Linked DNA regions of Homo sapiens. The protein of the gene in region 1 interacts with the protein of each later gene in a pairwise test. Each region holds a gene or a part of one and is shown in the gene's direction. Other genes may lie near its edges.

The links.
Region 2: the proteins of UQCRC2 (region 1) and ACAP1 interact in binary tests that used the Homo sapiens proteins (3 or more experiments, as listed by UniProt).
Region 3: the proteins of UQCRC2 (region 1) and CACNA1A interact in a two-hybrid assay, tested with the Homo sapiens proteins (one study listed by BioGRID and IntAct).

What each region holds. Positions count from the first base shown.
Region 1 is NC_000016.10:21,963,353-21,970,656, forward strand, and holds part of UQCRC2 (cytochrome b-c1 complex subunit 2, mitochondrial precursor), read left to right. Parts: intron 1-2,055; coding exon 2,056-2,153; intron 2,154-5,275; coding exon 5,276-5,333; intron 5,334-7,304. UniProt on the Homo sapiens protein: Component of the ubiquinol-cytochrome c oxidoreductase, a multisubunit transmembrane complex that is part of the mitochondrial electron transport chain which drives oxidative phosphorylation.
Region 2 is NC_000017.11:7,339,286-7,346,589, forward strand, and holds part of ACAP1 (arf-GAP with coiled-coil, ANK repeat and PH domain-containing protein 1), read left to right. Parts: intron 1-2,662; coding exon 2,663-2,782; intron 2,783-2,989; coding exon 2,990-3,043; intron 3,044-3,130; coding exon 3,131-3,189; intron 3,190-4,093; coding exon 4,094-4,277; intron 4,278-4,420; coding exon 4,421-4,465; intron 4,466-4,575; coding exon 4,576-4,671; intron 4,672-4,763; coding exon 4,764-4,838; intron 4,839-5,253; coding exon 5,254-5,363; intron 5,364-6,958; coding exon 6,959-7,010; intron 7,011-7,105; coding exon 7,106-7,206; intron 7,207-7,304. UniProt on the Homo sapiens protein: GTPase-activating protein (GAP) for ADP ribosylation factor 6 (ARF6) required for clathrin-dependent export of proteins from recycling endosomes to trans-Golgi network and cell surface.
Region 3 is NC_000019.10:13,293,438-13,300,741, reverse strand, and holds part of CACNA1A (voltage-dependent P/Q-type calcium channel subunit alpha-1A), read left to right. Parts: intron 1-85; coding exon 86-192; intron 193-1,388; coding exon 1,389-2,198; intron 2,199-7,304.

The sequences.
Region 1 (7,304 bases):
TTATTATTCTTTTGTTTCTAAACATTTATAATCATTTTTCATGTTTGATGGTAAGTAAATTGTTTGTAAGATCCTAGAAGTTTTTCCTGTTTCCTTCCCAATGTTTTGTTTTTGTTTGTTTGTTTGTTTGTTTTTGAGACAGGGTGTTGCTTGTTGCCCAGGCTGGAGTGCAGTGGCACAATCTCACTGCAGCCTGAACCTTCTGGACTCAGGTGATCCTCCTACCTCAGCCTCCTGAGTAGCTGGGACTACAGGCACACACCACCGCACCCTGCTAATTTTTATTTTTATTTTTTTATAGAGATGAGGTCTCACTCTATTGCCCAGGCTGGTCTCGAACTCCTGGGCTGAAGTGATCCTCCCACCTCAGCTTCCCAAAGTGCTGGGATTACAGGCGTGAGCCACTGTGCCTGACCCCTAGTGATTTTTAAGAGTTGTTTTGCTTACCCCAAATCCTACACCAGTTTATTGCTGCTGCTATTATTGCTTACTATTGTATTGCTATTATTGTTTAGCCATCTCCTCTTTATTGAGTCTTTCCAAAGTAAGTAACTTAATTTTTTTAATAGGAATCTTTTTTGCATTCATATTTTATGTTTATATAATGTCTAATTATATAATCTTGACAAGTACAACTGGTAATACAAGTCTGTAAGCAAGCGCCGCTGACTCTTGGGAGTCATACAACTTCTGGTGGGAGCAGAAATGTGCAGGAAGAGCAGAAATAGCTCAACTCAGTGGTTCAGCATGGGACAGGCTCCCCTCCACATGCAGGCCTGGGGACTGATGTTATTTCATGATGATGCTTGGTGTCACAGAGGAGCATTATCTTTGTTGCTCAGGATTTCTACTGAAGAAATAGATAGAATAGTACAATTTTAGAAAAGATGACCTATGTGTCCAGAGTGGCTTCTTCCCCACTGGCGGCAGTGAGGCACCAGCCTGCATCTATTCTGCCTGAACAGTTACTGTGTAGTCTCCTGGCTGGTGTCAGCCTCCAGGTTTACGTCTTGAGTCCATCTCCCACACGGCCATTACAGTGATCCTTCTGACGTGAAAGTAAGCCTTCTTATTATCTATGGGATAAAGTCCAAACAGCATATACGTATATGGCCTTGCGTGATCTTACCCCAGCCCACTTCTCTTACTTTATGCTCTACCCTCTTCTCCTTCCAGCTGCAATTCCCATTTGAATCAAATTATTGTTATACTTTATGCCTTTGTTTTGTCTGCTTCCTGTGCCTAAAATGCTGTTCCCAAATGATTTCCCCTGGGAAACACCAGCTCATTCTGTAAGATGGATCCCACATATTACTTGTATTAATTGTTTTCCAATTCCCACTGCCCTTGCCTTGTACCTCTACTGCACTTTTGACACACTGCCGACATTGCACCCATAATACTTTATTTCACAGTTTTTCCTCTTAAAATTTGAGGGCAGGCATTGTATGTTCCACATCTCTGTATTTCTAGCACCTAGCACAGTGCCTCGCATAGGCAAGTTGCCAGGTAATGAGCAACTGAAGGAAATACTGCAGGCAAAAAGGCATTGAAGCAAGAAAGCAGGGAAAGCACCAAGCACCACAGAGGAGTAAGTCCCAGTGGAAGCTCCCATTGGTCCCCTGAAAGCTACCTGACAATCTCCTTATTACCTAGAGAGGAAACCTAGGAGTAAGTAAAATTCAGATTAAATGACTTGTCCAAGGTCACATGGCAAGATGGCGGCAGAACCATAACTAGATGGGGACTTCCCAAAACCCAGGCCAGTATACCTTCCAAGTGATACCAGCTAGGTTAAAGTTAGAAAAGTGGTTTAGGTGGACTCCAGTATATAGAAGCTGCTGCCATGTAATCTTTTTTATTTTTTTCTCAGCACATTCTACTGGCAGAAACTGGCAGTTACTAGAGGTTAAATAATAATAAATTTTAAGTCCTCTTAACATATGAATGCCAGAAGATGACCAAATTTGTATAGGCTTGTTGCTTTCTAGGTTTTAAAAATGTTGTCTTTACTGAAAGTGCATTTCCCTAAATGCTTCTTCACTTATCTCACAGATGTCATTGAAAATTTGCATGCAGCAGCTTACCGGAATGCCTTGGCTAATCCCTTGTATTGTCCTGACTATAGGATTGGAAAAGTGACATCAGAGGAGGTACCAATAAAACATATTTTGAAATGTGCTTGTTTTTCACATTAAATTGAACATCTCCCATTTCAGGTTTGTTTGTTAATTTTTCCTTTTATCTTCTAACTTTAAGAAATTCAGCGTGCTAGCTTTTTCATCCACCTGCTTTTTAACTAAAATTTTATCTGAACAATTTTTGTGTCTCCTTTAAGAAATGTTTTCATGACTAAAGGGACATGATCATTACAGAAAAATTAAAAAGTAAAATCAAACAAAATGAAGGGAAAGAAAACATCTCACATACCTAAAGGCACTCAGTGTTAATACCTGGTATATTTTCTTCTAAACCGTTTTCTGTGTGTATGTATCTTTTTTGTTTGTTTGTTTTAAATACGGGGTCTTGCTGTGTTGCCTAGGCTGGTCTTGAACTCTTAAGCTCAAGCAGTCCTTCTGCCTATGCCTCTCAAAGTGCTGGGATTACAGGCATGAGCCATTGCACCCAGCCTGTGTATCTTTTTTAAACAGTATTTAAATGTTTAAGTATCATAATAGGGGCTGGGCCCAGTGGCTCATGCGTGTAATCTCAGCACTTTGGGAGGCCAAGACAGAGGGATCACTTGAGGCCAGGAGTTCAAGACCAGCCTGGGCAACATAGCAAGACCCTGTCTCTACAAAAAAAAAATATATATATATGTGTGTGTGTATACATATATATAAAATAGGTCCTTTGACTAAAACTCTTTGGTCTCTCTGAATTTGTAAATAAGACTTGAGCCCACTTCCTTAGCTCCTGTTCCATCCTCGCTCACTCATTCACGTTCTTCAGCACACCAGCCTCCGTTTGCTGGCTATAGGGGTTTGTCACATGCCACAGCCATATGTGCATCTTAGAACTTTGTTTCCAAAACATGAAACATTGAATGCTAAATCTACAAGTGTAGATATGTGCGTATAATCTTAATTTCCTATTCCTACCACCCAGACCCAAAAACAAATTTTATCAAAAGACATTAAGAGAAAAATTTGTAATTATCAACACCTTCAAAGTATATCTGACTCAAAAATTCAAGGTTTTTATTCTCGTTTTATTCTTAGTTAGCTGTTACAGAAAACTAAACTGTATCCCTTGCTCTTTTTGACTTATCAATTAACAGTTTGATGCCTTTCATTCATATGGCACTTTTATTTAGAAATTTTAACTTACATCATCCAACTTGAACAGGCAGCCGTTTTCATAAGACTGGACTCTAATGAGTTTTGAAATTTTTCAGAAATCAAATTCACCCTCATGAAGATGTGTCATTAAGTTAGCTAAAACTTAGCAAAAGTTTATCTACAAGGATGGCTATTGTAATACTAGTTTATAATTGTGAAAAATTAGAAACAAGTTAATATCCAGCATTAGGGAACTAGTTAAATAACTTATAGAATGGAACAGTATTCAACCATTCAAAAATATTAGTTGATACATAAAACTCCACAGCATGTTGTCACATAAAGCAATTTATGGATTAGGACATACCAAAAGGTCCCTTTTTTTTAATAAAAGGTATGTATGTATGCATTATAGACAAATATCAAGATGTTAACTGTGATAACTTGGTTATCTCAAAGTTAATAGTATTTTTTAAATGTGTCCCTAGGCTAAAGGAAACTCTAAAGAAATTGGCGCTAGAATACTTGGAGCAATGGCAGCATCAATAGAAAAACATCAATAGAAAAAGAGTATGACTTTCCAAGGTTACTCCATAGGTACAGACACCATTCATTTTAGGGCACGGATTATGATAAATTGATTAAAAGTTCAGTTTCATTACTTTAGCCCAGTGATTCTCAAAACGTTATCACTTTCCTTCCTGAGGAGCCTTTCTAGCCATTTTTTTCTAAACCTCTTACTTTTAATACCACAGATAGAGTTTATGTGCTGTATATTTGTACTTTTTACATAGAAGTCGTAAGTTTTTTTTTTTTCTTAGTTACCCCAAACCAATTTTCACCCATCTGGAAAGGATAGCATTTCTGTTGAAAGTACATGTTTTAGCCCTACTTTTGTATATTAAGCCTAAGGTGGTAATATAAACCAGTGATAACCAAGTCTCACCAATCTTCAGATCGCCTGAGTGGTTGATTGGATGGATGGGTAGTTGGTCGGTTTTAAATAAGGATTCTAGGATTCCACATTTAATATTTTATATCAGTCTGTAGGGTAAGTCCCAAGAATGGGGGACAGTGACCGTTTTTGTTTTTCAAGCTGAGTAATTGTGATCTTACAGTTTCGACACCCTGGTATAGACAATGACTTCATGGTCAGAAAAGCTTTATAGAGATTGGCTTCAAAGATGGACGAGAAGGGTGTTGTGGTAAAACTCTGTTAGCCCTGTTATAGAATGTTAATAGTGCTTCATTACTACTTATATAAACACAAAAGAAACCTGACATACTACGTAAGCTACATTATAATAAAAATCATAGTCCACGTTTTCAAGTTTAGGCCAGTGTATGCTCTAATTTCTTTTTATTCCTTTTTTTTTTTTTTTTTTTGAGACAGAGTCTTGCTGTGTCGCCCAGGCCAGAGTGCAATGACACGATCTCAGCTCACTGCAACCTCTGCCTCCTGGATTCAAACAATTCTCGTGCCTCAGCCACCCATGTAGCTGGGATTACAGGCGTGCACCACCATGCCTGGCTAATTTTTGCATTTTTAGTAGAGTCAGGATTTCGCTGTGTTGCCCAGGCTGGTCTCAAACTCGTGGCCTCAAATGATCCGCCAGCCTTGGCCTCCCAGAGTGCTGGGATTACAGACATGAGCTACTGCACCCAGCCTCTTTTTATTCCTTTTATAAATAACAGCTTTGTTGAGATGTAATTCACCATACTATACAACCTATTTAAAGTGTACACAATTCAGTGGTTTTCATTATATTCACAGAGTTGTGCAACCATGACCACAATTAGGTTCTAGTTCTTTTAAGCAATAGTTTTTATAATAAAATCCCAGGGTAATTCACCTCAGTTAGTACCTTGTAGTTCATTACAGCAACTTATAAGGCCTTATAAGTATTTATTTTCTTCCAAACTGTACTTTTATGTTTTTACAGCTTTTTATATTTATGCTAATATAACCTAATAAGTGTTTTTAACTTCCTCAGTTACATTACTTCGTTCAGAACCATTTCACAAGTGCAAGAATGGCTTTGATTGGACTTGGTAAGTTTAGAGTATTGCCTGCCTGTCAGTTTGCTTCCTTAAGAGCAGTTCCTTAAACTGTAATTACGTGAACATAGGATTGAACAAAATTTGAAAACTTCGGCCTTCTATTTATGTCAGACAGGCAATATATCATAGGATTTTAATTGCTAGTCATTTGTTTTGGAAAGCAGAATCCAACATTTAAATTTGTAAACCACTGGCTTTAAATTCTTTACAGTATTTGTAAAACCTGTGACAAAGGTGAATTTCTCAAAGCAAAGAGCTTTTACAAACTTTTTTAAAAGGAAGTACAGCTTACTAGAAAAACAGGCAAAGGGCATGAACAGACAGTTCATGGGAGAAATATGTTTGTATATGTGTAGCCAACTATCTTTGTTTTAAATGATCAGCCTCACTAATAATTAAGAAAATTTTAATCTGTGATGTTGGCAAAATTAAAAGATGGACTCTGCCCAGAATTAACCAGGGTATGGAGAAATAGGCACTCTCACAAATTGTTAGTAGGAATATAAACTAGTACAACATTTTGGGAGATCTTTTTGAACATATCTGTTAAAATTCTAGGCTGGGCATGGTGGCTCATGCCTGTAATCCTAGCACTTTGGGAGGCTGAGGCGGGCGGATCACCTGAGGTCAGGAGTTCAAGACCAGCCTAGCCAACATGGCGAAACCCCGTCTCTACTAAAAATACAAAAATTAGTCGGGCATGGTGACACATGCCTGTAATCCCAGCTATCGGGGGGCTGAGGAGGAGAATCGCTTGAACCCAGGAGGCAGTGATTGCAGTGAGCTGAGATCGTGCCACTGCACTCCAGCAAGGGCGACAGAGTGAGACTCTGTCTCAAAAAAATACAATTCCAAATGTTTACACTCATAGACCCAGTGACTTTTAAGAATTTGTCTTACAGAAACATTAGGTCAAGTTTACAAAGTAGTTGCATGAGAATATCATTTGTAATATTTTTTGTTTTGTTTTGCAAATTACAGCTTAAGATATAATTTACATGCTATAAAATTCACCCTTTTGAAGTGAATAGTTCTGTGGTTTTTAACAGATTCAACTATTACCACTACCTAATTTCAGGGTGTGTTCATCATCCCCCCAAAAGCCCCATACCCATTAGCAGTCACTCCCCATTCTCATCTTCCCCCTGCCTGTGGCATCCACTAATCTACTTTGTTTTTGTTTTTTTTTTTAAAGAGATGGAGGTCTCATTCTGTTGCCCAAGCTGGAGCACAGTGGCACAATCATAGCTCACTGCCTTGAACTCCTAGGCTCAGGTGATCCTCCCACCTCAGCCTCCTAAGTAGCAATAATCTACTTTGTCTCTATAGATTTGACTATTCTGGACATTTCCTATAAATGGAGTCATACGATATGTGGCCTTTTGTAACTGGCTTTTCTTACTTAGCATAATGTTTTCAAGGTCCGTCCATATTGTAGCATGTGTCAATTCAATGTCTTATTCCCTTTTATGGCTCAAGAATACTCCATTACCACATTTTGTTTATTCATTGATTGGCATTTGGGTTGTTTCTACCTTTTGGCTGTCGTAAATATAAACATTCACGTGTACATTTTTCTTAGGAAACCTGTTTTTAGTTCTTTTGGTTATGTCTAAGAACAGAATTGCCAGGACATATGGTAACTCTGTTTAACCATTTGGGGAACTGCCAGACTGTTTTCCAAAGTAGCTGCACCATTTTACATTCCCACCAGCAATGCACAAAGGTTTTGATTTCTCCACATCCTCACCAACACTTATCGTCTGTCTTTCTGATTATGAACAACCTACTGGGTGGGAAGTGGTCATTGTAGTTTTGATTTGTATTTCCCTAATGACAAATGACATTGAACATATTTTCATGTGCTTTTTGTCCATTTGTATAACTTTTTTTGTTTGTTTGTTTTTTTGAGACAGAGGCTTGCTCTGTTGCCCAGGCTGGAGTGCAGTGGCGCAATCTCAG
Region 2 (7,304 bases), on another chromosome or scaffold:
TCAATAAACAAAAACAAACAAACAAAAAACCCCAATAAACTCTAGCCAAGCTCAGTGGCTCACGCCTGTAATCCCAGCACTTTGGTAGGCTGCGGCAGGTGGATCACGAGGTCAGGACTTCGAGAACAGCCTGACCAACATGATGAAACCCCCATCTCTACTAAAAATACAAAAATTAGCCAGGCGTGGTGGCACGCACCTGTAATCCCAGCTACTCAGGAGGCTGAGGCAGGAGAATTGCTTGAACCCAGGAGGCGGAGGTTGCAGTGAGCCGAGATCACGCCACCACACTCCAGCCTGCGGAGGTCGCAATGAGCCGAGATCGTGCCACTGCACTCCGGCGTGGGCGACAGACCAAGACTCTGTCTCTAAATAAATAAATAAACTCTATAGATCCTACTTTGATTTTACATTTTGCATATACTCTTTTTTGGTGTTTTTGTGTATAATTCTATGGTACTTTATCACGTGTATGGATTCCTTTAACCATCACCACACACCAATGGACACAAGGAATTCCTTTACAGTGGTACCCGACACCCTTCCCACACTTCTTTAATCTGTGGTAACCGCTGATTTGTTCTCCATCTCTCTACTTTTGTCATTTCCAGAATGTTCCATATATAGAATCATACACTATGTGACCCTTTGAGATTTGGCTTCCCCCTCCCCCCTCACTCAGAATAATGCTGCTGCCGGGTGTGGTCGCTCATGCCTGTCATCCCAACTACTCAGGAGGTCAAGGTAGGAGGGTTGCTTGAGGCCAGAAGCTCGAGACCAGCCTGGGCAACATAGCAAGACCCTTGTCTCTAAATAATGTTCTGTTTTGTTTTTAAATTAGCCAGGCATGGTGGTGTGTGCCTGTAGTCTCAGCTACTCAGGAAGCTAAGATTGGAGGATCCCTTGAACCCAGGAGTTCAAGGCTGCAGTGAGCTATGATCCCACCACTGCACTCCAGCCTGGGCGACAGAGACCTCAACTCTAAAAATAATCATAATTTTTTAAAAGATGAATGCTCTTGAAGTTTATCCAAGTTGTTGCACATATCAACAGTTTGTTCCTTTTTATTGCTGAGTACTGTTCTATTGAACAGATGTCCCAGTCTGTCACTAGTCCAGTGTTATGAAAGTTTCTTACTCATCTAAGGGGGAGGGGCTGAGATGGTAAGGAAAAAAACTAGACACAGAGTCCTCAGATTCACACAGTGATTTGTGAACATCCTTGTACCTTGTCACAGACAACCCATGGTGATGTCTGATAAGATTTGATCTCGGTCAGGCCAGGTGCAGTGGCTCATGCCTGTAATCCCAGCACTTCGGGAGGCCGAAGCAGGTGGATCACCTGAAGTCAGGAGTTCGAGACCAGCCTGGTCAACATGGTGAAACCCCGTCTCTACTAAAAATACAAAAAATTAGCTGGGCGTGGTGGCGGGCACCTGTAATCCCAGCTACTCTGGAGGCTGAGGCAGGAGGATCGCTTGAACCTGGGAGGTGGAGGTTGTGGTGAGCCAAGATCATGCCATTGCACTCCAGCTTGGGCAACGGAGCAAAACTCCGTCTCAAAAATAGAAAAATAAAAAGAGATGGGGTTTCACTATGTTGGTCAGGCTGATATCCAACTCCTGACCTCAGGTGATCCACCCACCTCAGCCTCCCAAAGTGTTGAGATTACAGGTCTGAGCCACCTTGCCTGGCCTATCAAGTCTCTTTGTCAGTCAAAAGAGCCAGATAGGATGGGCCCCAGGAGTACCCCGGCATTTCCTCTTGGCCCTGACCCGTGGTCTAGATGATGGATTAATATTTATGAGGGAACGTGCAGTGAGCACAGAATGGGACAACTCCTAGCAGTAAATACTATAGATTTTATTTATTTATTTATTTTTCGAGACAGAGTCTCGGTCTGTCACCCAGGCTGGAGTGCAGTAGCGCCATCTCGGCTCACTGCAGCCTTGACCTCCCGGATTCAGGCAGTCCTCCTGCCTTAGCCCCCCAGGTAACTGGGATTATAGGCACTTGGTGCCATCTCAGCTCACTACAGCCTCAGCCTCCCGGGTTCAAGCAGTCCTCCTGCCTTAGCCTCCCAAGTAGCTGGGATTACAGGCATGTGCCACCATGCCTGGCTAATTTTTGAATTTTTAGTAGAGATGAGGTTTCACCATGTTGCCCAGGCTGCTCTTGAATTCCTGAGCTCAAGCGACTGGCCCGCCTTGGCCTCCCAAAGGGTTGGGATTACAGGTGTGAGCCACCACGCCCGGCCAATACTGTAGAATTTAATAGCAACCAGGTAGAGCATCCAGACCATGCAGGAATCTCCACGGAGCTCTGGATCTAAGCAGGTAGGCAGGGCAGGAAGAGATATGTGCGAGTGGACAGGGAAAGATGTTTTGGAGGTAAGGCTGACAGAGGTGTTGGCGACAGGCTGAGAGGAATGGGCAGGAATTGGGTTTCAGGCCCAAGGCAGTGGGAGCAAAGACGCAGCGATAAGAACACAGCAGGTATGTGTTAGATACAGGGAGAGCTGGATGAGCCTGGAGGGCAGTGAGGCCAGGCAGGAATAGGGGAGCGCCGCCCTGGGCAAGGGGAGAGGAAGTGGGGCAGGTGTGGGGGCATCACCAGGTGTGAGGATGATGGCACAGCTCCCTGTTACCCTCCTTCTTTCCCAGCTCCTGAAACTGGGCACTGGTCTCCTGGAAAGTGGGCGCCATTACCTTGCTGCCAGCCGCGCCTTCGTTGTCGGCATTTGTGACCTGGCCCGCCTGGGTCCACCAGAGCCCATGATGGCGGTATGCGGAGGGTCTGCATCTGGGAGGGAAGGGGTCTGGGATGAGGAGGTGATGCTGTGGAAGAGGAGGGCTGGCCTGGGGTCTGCAGGTTCCAGGCCACAGCAGGGCTGGGCTGCTGTCCATGACAGCCGTAGCAGGCTGGGTCTCGAGTCGGGAGGGTGCTGCCACCCCATGCCTGGTACTCTTTCTGTGCCTCTTCTTGCCTAGGAGTGTCTGGAAAAATTCACCGTGAGCCTGAACCACAAGCTGGACAGCCATGCGGTAAGTAGGGGAAGGTAAGGATTGTCGGGGTGGTGGCCAGGTCACCTGTGGTCCTGACCCCAGTCTACCAACTTCTCCTTCCCTCAGGAGCTTCTAGATGCCACCCAACACACACTGCAGCAGCAGATCCAGACCCTGGTCAAGGAGTGAGATGGGGCCGGGCGCAGTGGCTCATGCCTGTAATCCCAACACTTTGGAAGGCCAAGGCGGGAGGATTGCTTGAGCCCAGGAGTTGGACACCAACCTAGCCAACATGGCGAAACTGTCTCCACAAAAAATACAAAAATTAGGCCGGGCACGGTGGCTCATGCCTATGATCCCGGCATTTTGGGAGGCCAAGGCGGGCGGATCACCTGAGGTCGGGAGTTCGAGACCAGCCTGTCTAACATGGCAAAACCCCAGCTCTACTAAAAAATACGAAAAAAAAAAATTAGCCGGGCATGGTGGCAGGTGCCTGTAATCCCAGCTACTCAGGAGGCCGAGGCAGGAGAATCATTTGAACCCAGGAGGTGGAGGTTGCAGTGAGCCAAGATCGCACTACTTCACTTCAGCCTGGGCAACAGAGTGAGACTCTGCCTCAAAAAAAAAAAAAAAAAAAAAAAAATAGCCGGGCGTGGTGGCACATGTCTGTTGTCCCAGCTTCTTGGGAGGCTGAGGCAGGAGAATTGCTTGAGCCTGGAGGTCAGGGCTGCGGTGAGCCATGATTGTGCCACTGTACTCCAGCCTGGGTAACAGAGCAAGACCCGGTCTCAAAAACAAAAACAACAACAACAACAAAAATTTTTTAAAGGGGGAGTGAGATGGGAGAGAAGGGGGCCTTATTTCTCGGAAACCAGCCCTGCTGCCCTCTTCCCATGGCCACAGGAGCCTCCCCAGTGACGGAGTTGTGAGATTGGGGGTTTCTGGTGTCCTGACTTCCGTCCCAGGGATCACCTTGGGTTTCCCACGTTGCAGAGACTAACTGAAAGGACATGAGGGCTTTACCCTGGGAATGCTCTGCTGGGGCAGGTGGGTGTTAGCTGCGATTCTGTGTTATTTTCCCATCCTCAGAGGTCTGCGGGGTTTCCGAGAGGCTCGCCGGGATTTCTGGCGGGGGGCTGAGAGCCTGGAGGCTGCCCTGACCCACAACGCAGAGGTTCCCAGGCGCCGGGCCCAGGAGGCAGAAGAGGCAGGAGCTGCTTTGAGGACGGCTCGAGCTGGGTACCGGGGACGGGCACTGGATTATGCCCTGCAGGTGCCTGCCCCAATCTGTCTTCCTGGGGTACCAGAGCCTCAAGTGTCACCTCGAGGCTTGGGGGTCTCCAGTGTGCAGTGGGAAGGGGTGCTGTGTCTTCAAGACTGATCTGGGGTTTTTTACGTCCTCTTTTACGTCCTCAGATCAACGTGATTGAGGACAAGAGGAAGTTTGACATCATGGAGTTTGTGAGTTGTGGCGGGGGTGAGGGCAGGGTGGAGAAGAGCCTGCTGCCAGCACAAGGGAATGGGGAGAGGGGTTCTTCCTCAGCCTTCCCACTGCCCGCCTTGTCCCCCAGGTGCTGCGTTTGGTGGAGGCCCAGGCTACCCATTTCCAGCAGGGCCATGAGGAGCTGAGCCGGCTGTCCCAGTATCGAAAGGAGCTGGGCGCCCAGGTGGGGCCCCAGGGCACAGCAGGTGGTAGAGGGAGGTTAGGGACTCCTAACTGGGGGGCCTTGGACATCTGAGATGCCCTTCCTGTGCCCAGTTGCACCAGCTGGTCTTGAATTCAGCACGAGAGAAGAGGGACATGGAGCAGAGACACGTGCTGCTGAAACAGAAGGTGAGGGGCCAGGTGCGGTGGCCCACGACCGTCATCCCAACATGTTGGGAGGCTGAGGTGGGAAGATTGCTTGAGGCCTGGAGTTCAAGATTAGCCTAGGCATCGTAGTGAAACTCCATCTCTACAGAAAATTTTAAAATTAGCTGGTGTGGTGGCATGCACCTCTAGTTCTAGCTACTCAGGAGGCTGAGGTGGGAGGATTGCTTGAGCCCAGGAGTTCAAGACTGCAGTGAGCTATGATCACACAACTGCACTTAAGCCTGGGTGAAAGAACAAGACCCTGTCTCTAAAAATAAATTTTAAAAAGTATTTCAAAAAGCAGAAAGTAAGGGCTAGGGCTGTGGGCAGGAGGCAGATGCCTATGGCCTTGGTGTCTGCCCATCTCAGTTGCCCTTTGATCCTCTTGTGCCTCCAGGAGCTGGGTGGGGAGGAGCCAGAACCAAGCTTAAGAGAGGGGCCTGGTGGCCTGGTGATGGAAGGACATCTCTTCAAACGGGCCAGCAACGCATTTAAGACCTGGAGCAGGTGAGGAGAGGACACCCCCAATCAGCCCGCCCCACCCAATGATGTATTTTCGAGTGGTAATAGCACACTAAGCACTGCAAGGAAAAACAGACGAACCCCCCTGCCTCAGTAGAGTTTCATTCCATCAGCAAAGACAGAGGATAAACCTAGTATGTAAATTACGTGCTATGTTAGAAGGTGATAGTGCTTGCTATAGGAGAAAGATGATAAAGCAAGGGATGTGGGGAGCTGGGTAGGGGTTACAGTTCTAAATAGTTGGGCAGTGTGGGCTTCATGAGAAGGTAACTTTTGAACAAAGACTTGAAGGATATCTGGGGGAAGAAAGTTCTAGACAGAAGAAAGAGCCAGTGCCAAGGCCCTGAGATAGCTGGGGAGTTGGAAGAGCAGGGTGGTGGCCCTGGGTCTGGACAGAGTGAGGGAGGAGGATGTGCAGGAGATGAAATCGGAGCTAATGGGGGCATGAGTCATTATAGGGCCCTATAGATTTTTGTAGGGATTTGGGGTCTACTCTGAGAGCAATTGGGAGCCGCTATAGGGTTTGGAACAGGATGGTGGCATGCTGTGACTTGACTCCTTTCCCTTCTAGGGCCACTGCTAGCCCACATGGGATCTCTGTACAAATTAGAAAATGGAGCTGCTTCCCCAAGATACTCTTTTTTCTTTTTCTTTTCTTTTTTTTTTTCTGTTTTTTTTGAGATGGGGTGTCACTCTGTTGCCCAGCCTGCAGTGCAGTGGCGCAGTCTCGGCTCACTGCAACCTCTATCCCCTGAGTTCAAGTGATCCTCCCTCCTCAGCATCCTAAATAGCTGGGACCACAGGCGTGTGCCATCACGCTCGGCTAATTTTTGTATTTTTGGTAGAAACAGGGTTTCACCATGTTGCCCAGGCTGGTTGCAAACTCCTGACATCAAGCAATCCACCCGCCTCGGCCTCCCAACTTGCTGGGATTACAGGCGTGAGCCACTGTACCTGGCCCCCAAGATTCTTTCTTTTCTTTTTTTCTTTTTCTTTTTTTTTCTTTTTTGATGGAGCCTCGCTATGTTGCGCAGGCTGCAGCACAGTGGTGCGATCTCAGCTCACTGCAACCTCAGCTTCCTGGGTTCAAGCGATTCTCCTGCCTCAGCCTCCCAAGTAGGTGGGATTATAGCCGCCTGCCACCACGCCTGGCTAATTTTTGTATTTTTAGTAGAGACGGAGTTTCACCATATTGGTCAGGGTGGTCTCAAACTCCTGACCTCGGGTGATCCACCACCCCCATCAGCCTCCCAAAGTGCTGGGATTACAGGTGTGAGCCCAGCCTAAATAGTATTTTTTAAATTGTAGCAATAGACATTTTATTAGAAAAAGAATTTTACTGCCATCTGCTGGAAAGTTGTCTTCATAACTATATGAAATCTGGGTTGTCCAAGATAGGAATAGCATCCTTTAGATGTTCCAATCTGCACAATTGTCCACCCTTCTCTGGAATGTCTCGTGGAACAGTCAGCCCAGGTGTCTGTCCTCTCAGTAAGATCCTCATGGGCAAAAAGCACAGCCTCTCTTCCGTCCCTCATCCTAAAGCTGCCTATGTCTGTAATGATTTCCTTCTCTTACAGACGCTGGTTCACCATTCAGAGCAACCAACTGGTTTACCAGAAGAAGTACAAGGTGAGTGGACCTGGGTCCTGGATGCCTGGGCCCCAGGGAGACTCAGCTCTTGCCTGCAGCTGGACATCTGGCCCCTTATCACCTTATCCTGCCAGGACCCTGTGACTGTGGTGGTGGATGACCTTCGTCTCTGCACAGTGAAACTCTGCCCTGACTCAGAAAGGCGGTTCTGCTTTGAGGTGGTGTCCACCAGCAAGTGAGTGCAATCCCCAGGGGTGATACTCTAATATATCTAAACAACTGCCAATCTGAAAGGCAGGGCCCACCACAATGGAGGCCCCCCATGCAGCTCCA
Region 3 (7,304 bases), on another chromosome or scaffold:
TTGCCCCTGGTCAGCAACAGGGTCAGAAGTGAGTCCCCAAGGCCTAGTTCATGTTTTGTGAACAAAGATTCCACGTGCCTTTTAGGACGAGCAAGAGGAAGAAGAAGCAGCGAACCAGAAACTTGCCCTACAGAAAGCCAAGGAGGTGGCAGAAGTGAGTCCTCTGTCCGCGGCCAACATGTCTATAGCTGTGTAAGTGCCCCTAATCCCTGGGATGCTACCCTGGCTCCTGAACGTCCACACTATCCCAGGCACAGATTTGGGAAGCAGTGGGGGTGGTCCTTGACAGAACTGAGCTTTAGGAAGAGACACTTCTTGTCCTTCCACCCACTTTCACTCAATAAATATTTGGTTAGCAGCTGTTATGTACCCAGCACTGTTCTAACTTCTGGGGATACAGCATTAACAAGGAGGAAAAAAAAAATCCCACCTGTGTGTAGCCATTCTAGCAAGGGAAGGAGTCAATAAATTAGATAAATAAGTAAATTATATATTGTGTTAGAAGGCGATGGAACTACAGAGAAAGTAGGGGAGGGAAATAGCAAATGCTGGGAGTGAAGAGAGTTGTGATTTTAAACGAAGTTGTCAGGGAAGGCATCACCTAGAATAGGGGTCCCCAGTCCCGGGGCTGTGGACTGGTACCAGGCCGAGGCCTATTAGGAACGGGGCTGCACAGCAGGAGGTGAACAGTGAGCAAGCAAGCATTACCGCCTGAGCTCCACCTGCCGTCAGATCAGCAGGCAGCATTAGATTCTCATAGGAACACAAACACTATTGTGAACGGTGCATCTGAGGGATCTAGGTTGCGTGCTCCTTTTAAGAATCGAATGCCTGATGATCTCAGGTGAAACAGTTTCATCCCAAAACCACCCCCCACACCTAGGTCTGTGGAAAAACTGTCTTCCACAAAACTGGCCCCTGGTGCCAAAAAGGTTGGGGACTGCTCACCTAGAAGGTTACATGGCCTGAAGGAGGTGAGGGAGGAGCCACTGGGGGGCCTGGGGAAGGGCATCCCAGGCAGAGGGAACAGCATAGGCAATGGCCCTGAGGCAGGAACATGCCTGATGTGAAGGAGGCCTGTGTGACTAGAATCGAATAGTAAGTGTGAGGAGGTGAAGGCAAGGAGGTGACAAGCAGATTACACAGGGCCTTCTGGGTCAGGGGGGAGGACTTGGGCTTTTGCCCCTAGCCAGGTGGGAGCCATGGAGGGTTCTTGAGCAGAGGAGGCTGGGACCTGACTCAGATGCTCACAGACTCCTAGCATTCAGTGGGGAGTAGAGGGTGGAGAGCAGGAGTGGGAGGCTGAGATGTGGGTTGGTTCGCCTGGGTCATCCATCCAAGCTACAGTGCCTAGCAATGCTCTAAGTCCTGTGACCATGCCACTGCAGGAAAGAGCAACAGAAGAATCAAAAGCCAGCCAAGTCCGTGTGGGAGCAGCGGACCAGTGAGATGCGAAAGCAGAACTTGCTGGCCAGCCGGGAGGCCCTGTATAACGAAATGGACCCGGACGAGCGCTGGAAGGCTGCCTACACGCGGCACCTGCGGCCAGACATGAAGACGCACTTGGACCGGCCGCTGGTGGTGGACCCGCAGGAGAACCGCAACAACAACACCAACAAGAGCCGGGCGGCCGAGCCCACCGTGGACCAGCGCCTCGGCCAGCAGCGCGCCGAGGACTTCCTCAGGAAACAGGCCCGCTACCACGATCGGGCCCGGGACCCCAGCGGCTCGGCGGGCCTGGACGCACGGAGGCCCTGGGCGGGAAGCCAGGAGGCCGAGCTGAGCCGGGAGGGACCCTACGGCCGCGAGTCGGACCACCACGCCCGGGAGGGCAGCCTGGAGCAACCCGGGTTCTGGGAGGGCGAGGCCGAGCGAGGCAAGGCCGGGGACCCCCACCGGAGGCACGTGCACCGGCAGGGGGGCAGCAGGGAGAGCCGCAGCGGGTCCCCGCGCACGGGCGCGGACGGGGAGCATCGACGTCATCGCGCGCACCGCAGGCCCGGGGAGGAGGGTCCGGAGGACAAGGCGGAGCGGAGGGCGCGGCACCGCGAGGGCAGCCGGCCGGCCCGGGGCGGCGAGGGCGAGGGCGAGGGCCCCGACGGGGGCGAGCGCAGGAGAAGGCACCGGCATGGCGCTCCAGCCACGTACGAGGGGGACGCGCGGAGGGAGGACAAGGAGCGGAGGCATCGGAGGAGGAAGTAAGTGGAGGTGACCTCGAATCCGCAGAATGACGGTAACATTAATAATGACAACAGCCAAAGTAGCACGTGCTGTGTATTTGTTTATAAAAATATATTATAAAATGCTGTATTTGGCCAGGCGCAGTGGCTCACGCCTGTAATCCCAGCACTTTGGGAGGCCGAGGCGGATGGATCACGAGGTCAGGAGTTCAAGACCAGCCTGGCCAAGATGGTGAAACCCCACCTCTAATAAAAATACAAAAATTAGCCGGGCACGGTGGCAGGCGCCTGTAGCCCCAGCTACTCAGGAGGCTGAGGCAGGAGAATCGCCTGAAAACAGGGGGCGGAGGTTGCAATGAGCCGAGATCACACCACCGCACTCCAGCCTGGGCGACAGAGTGAGACTCTGTCTCAAAAAAAAAAAAAAAGTGCTGTATTTGGCCAGGAGCAGTGGCTCATGCCTGTAATCCCAGCACTTTGAGAGGCCGAGGCGGGCGGATCACTTGAGGTCAGGAGTTGGAGAACAGGCTGGCCAACATAGTGAAACCCCGTCTCTACTAAAAATACAAAAATTAGTGGTGGTGCCCACCTGTATTCCCACTACTCAGGAGGCTGAGGCGGGAGAATCAGTTGAACCTGGGAGGTGGAGGTAGGTTGCAGTGAGCTGAGATCGTGCCATCACACTCCAGCCTGGGCAACAGAGCAAGACTCTGTCTCAAAAAAAAAAAAATGCTGTATGTTTTTGTTTTTTTGACACAGGGTCTCGCCTGTTGCCCAGGCTGGAGTGCAGTGGCAGTCATAGCTCAGTGCAGCCTCTACCTCCCGGGCTCAAGCCATCCGCCTCAGCCTCACAAGTAGCTGGGACCACAGACATGTGCCACATGCCTGGCTAATTTTTGTAGAGACAGTGTTTTGTAGAGACAGGGTTTCACTGTGTTTCCCAGGCTGGTCTCAAACTCCTGAACTCAAGCATTCCGCCTGCCTTAGCCTCCCTAAAGTGCTGGGACTACAGGGTTGAGCCACCACACTCAGCCTAATTTTTTTACCTTTAGTAGAAATGAGGCCTGGCTCTGTTGCCCAGGCTGGTCCCCAACTCCTGGCCTCAAGCAATCATCCCACCTCAGTCTCCCAAAGTGTTCGGATTAGAGGCTTCACAGATGGGGAAACTGAGAGATTGAGTGAGCTCCTCAAGGTCATTCCTCTAACCAGTGTCCTTGAACCCAGGCTCTCTGGCACCAGAGGCCTTGAGCATTTCAGGGAAACTATTAAGAGAAGCCCCACTGTCGTCCAGAATTATATAGTCTTCTGTGTTCTTGCTGTGTGACTTTTGCAAAGTGACTTCATATCTCTGGGCCTCACACAATGGAAATAGTGGGATCTAATTGGGTCATTGCCAGGATTGAATGAGGTAATGTATGCAAAGGGCCTGGAAGAGCAGCTGACACATAATAAGTGCTCGGTAAATTTAGAGCATTTTTGGCCATTTTCAGCCAACTCTATTTACCTAATGCTATTCTTTGGAAGTTTGAAAAGCCACTCTGTTGGGAGGCCAAGGTGGGAGGATCACTTGATACCAGGAGTTGGAGACCAGTCTGGGCAATAGAGGCAGACCCCATCTCTATAAAATATAAAAAATTAAACAGATGTGGTGGCATGCACCTGCAGTCCCAACTACTTGGGAGGCTGAGGCAGGAGGGTCACTGGAGCCCAGGATGTCTAGGCTATGATGAGCTATGATTGCACCACTGCACTTCAGCCTGGGCGACAGAGCAAGGCTTTGTCTCAAAAAATAAAATAAAAAATAAAGAAAAAGAAAAGGCACTTTGGGCCGTTAGAATTGAAGGGAGAGCAGAGTTTCAAAGCTTTGGATGCAGCGGGATGTGGTGGCTCATGCCTGTAGTCCCAGCACTTTGGGAGGCCAAGGTGGGAGGATCCACTTGAGCCCCGGAGTTCAAGACCAGCCTGCGCAACATAGTGAGACCTCACCTTTTAAAAATAAATAAAAATGTTAGAAAGCTTTTGAGGCATCTTCCAGGCCAGCAACTTATCCATTCAGAACCAGCATCCTCTTTTTCATAACGACATTTTGTAATACTTTCTAGCAGATGCTATAGTGATTCTGCATATAGGGACTCAACAACTTACCCATTAAAATAGACATCGTAGACATTGTCCTATTACAAATTAACCTGCTCTTAGTCCTCTTTTATATTACCATCAGGGCATAATATTGATTTTTTTAATGATGGGTTTAAGTGATCCTGTTGTATGACATATGAGGTAGGCCAGCACTTCTCAAAATCTAATGTGTATGTGAATCCCCAGGGATCTTGTTAAAACACAAATTGTAATTCCGTAGGGCTAAGGACTCAGTGGAGCCTGAGATTCTGCATTTGCAACGAGCTCCCAGATGAGGCTGATACTACTGGTCCAGGGACCACATTTTGAGTAATGAGACTCTGGAGGACATAGTGAAGTAATTCTGATATGTACACCATACACAAAATCACCATGAAGTGACAGGCACAAATGATGGCTAACTCTGGGTTGTGTGGACAATTCAAACCACATGAGGGGAGTTGCCAGCAGTGTCAAGATGTTCCACAATGTTGAACACCTCTTGGCAAAGTTCCATATACAAAAGAGTCTAGTCTTTCTTCCATTTATTTAATAGTTGCATTGCAGGAAAATGCAATGTATATTAAAAACATACAAAAAATATGTTGTGTTCTTATGTAAAAGAGTTAGGTTTAAACTAAAAGCACAGGATCAGGTGCAGTGGCTCCCACCTGTAATCCCAGTGCATTGGGAGGCTGAGGAAGGAGAATCGCTTGAGGCCAGGAGTTCGAGACCAACCTGGGCGACATAAGGAGACCTCGATCTCTACAAAAGAAGTTTTTTAATTAGCCAGGTGTGGCGGCAGGTGCCTGTAGTTCTAGCTACTTGGAAGGCTGAAGCAGGAGGATTGCTTGAGCCCAGGAGTTCAAGATTACAGTGAGCTATGATTATGCCATTGCATTCCAACCTGGGCAACAGAACAAGTCCTTGTCTCAAAAAAAAAAAAAAGAAAGAAAGAAAGAAAAAACCCAAACAAACAAGCAAACTAAAAGCACAGGTAATTACAAGCAAGATTTTTCACCTCTTTGAGGGACATTAGAAAGTCATGAAGAGGAAAAGATAAGTCTTTCCCATATGGGACTGTCATGTACATGGTAGGGTATTTAGTATAACTGCCTACCATTCTCTAAGTGCCTGCAGTGCCCCTCAATCATTATGTTATTAGGTTTCCACGTAGTTCTACAACAGTTTTCTGAAAACCATTGTTCTAGGTCATTCTTTCGCTTCAATCTTCTCCTATGGGTTTATGCATTCATTCAGTTAGTATTTACTAAGTGCCTACTATATTCTAAGCTCATGCTGTGAGTTCAGTCACACAACTGCAAGTGAAGTGGTCTGAGACATTCTGAGAAATACGACCAAGAAACTGCTCCCAGGGTCTCAGGGCAGGTTTCCAGAGGAGCAATCTGAGAAGGGAGTAGAGTGTTTCAGTCTAACAACAGCATGTGCAAAGGCCCTGGGGTGGACCAGAAGGAGGCCAGTTTGCAGGACATGACTAGTGACGAGAAAGTGACAAAGAAATTGAAGGTGCATTGATGAGACTCTGGGGCTGTCAGTCACTCAGGGGAATGAGAGATCAAAACGGGAGTTTAGGTGGAATAAAGTGTTTACCACAGCACTCTCTGTATAGTAAAGACCAATGAAGAGCCAGGTACAGGCCAGTGTGATGGTTCACGCCTGTAATCCCAGCACTTTGGGAGGCAGAGACAGGTGGATCACCTGAGGTCAGGGGTTCAGAACCAGCTTGGCCAACATGGCAAAACCCTGTCTCTACTAAAAATACAAAAAATTAGCCAGGCGTGGTGGTGGACGCCTATAATCCCAGCTACTCAGGAGGCTGAGGCACAAGAATTGTCCTGCGAGGCAGAGGTTACAGTGAGCTGAGATCACACCACTGCACTCCAGCCTGGGCAACAGAACAAGACTCTGTCTCAAAAAAAAAAAAAAAAAAAAAAAGCCAGGTACAGTGGTATGCACCTGTAATCCCAGCTACTCAGGAGGCTGAGGCAAAGGATTGCTTGAGCCCAGGAGTTCGAGACCAGCCTGAGCATTTAGAGAATGGGAGGCCAGTATACTAAATACCCTACCATGTACAAGACAGTCTCATATGGAAAAGAATTATCCTTTCCTCTTCATGACTTTCTAGTGCTCCTCACACAGGTGAAAAATCTTGCTTATAATTATCTGTGCCTTTAGTTTGTTGGTTTATTTAGGGTTTTGTTTGTTTTTTTTTTTTTTTTGAGGCAGGGTCTTGCTCTGTTGCCCAGGTTGGATTGCAGTAGCATTGCTCATTTTAGAGATGAGCAAGACCTCATGTCTAAAAAAAAAAGAAAGACCAATGATTATTAATTACTCTTGCTATTATTACTAATATTACTGTTATTATCAGCCTTATTAACAGATCTACTGTTATTGAAGGAGGCAGAGTGACAGGGACAAAATGTCTCTCCCTAACAATATGCCAGGAAGAGTTTTTGAAAGACAACAGTAAACATTGGAAACTACAAGAGCAGCAAAGCCTGGTTGTGAAAGGCAAGGACTTTGGGGCAGGCAGTCACATTCCTGCCCTATCACTTCCAGGCTGTGTGACTTTCAGAATTTCACTCCTCTCTGGGCCTCCATTTCCTCATCTATAAAATGAAGATAAGAATAGTAGCTACCTCCTTCTCTGGGTATAAGATTTAACTGAGCCGGGCGCGGTGGCTCATGCCTGTAATCCCAGCACTTTGGGAGGCCGAGGTGAGCGGATCACAAGGTCATGAGTTCAAGACCATCCTGGCTAATATGGTGAAACCCCATCTCTACTAAAAATACCAAAAAAAAAAAAAATTAGCCGGGCGTAGGTGGTGCACGCCTGTAGTCCCAGCTACTCGGGAGGCTGAGGTAGGAGAATGGTGTAAAACCCGGGAGGCGGAGCTTGCAGTGAGCCGAGATCGCACCACTGCACTCCAGCCGGGGAGACAGAGCGAGACTCCATCTCAAAAAAAAAAAAAAAAAAAAAAAAGA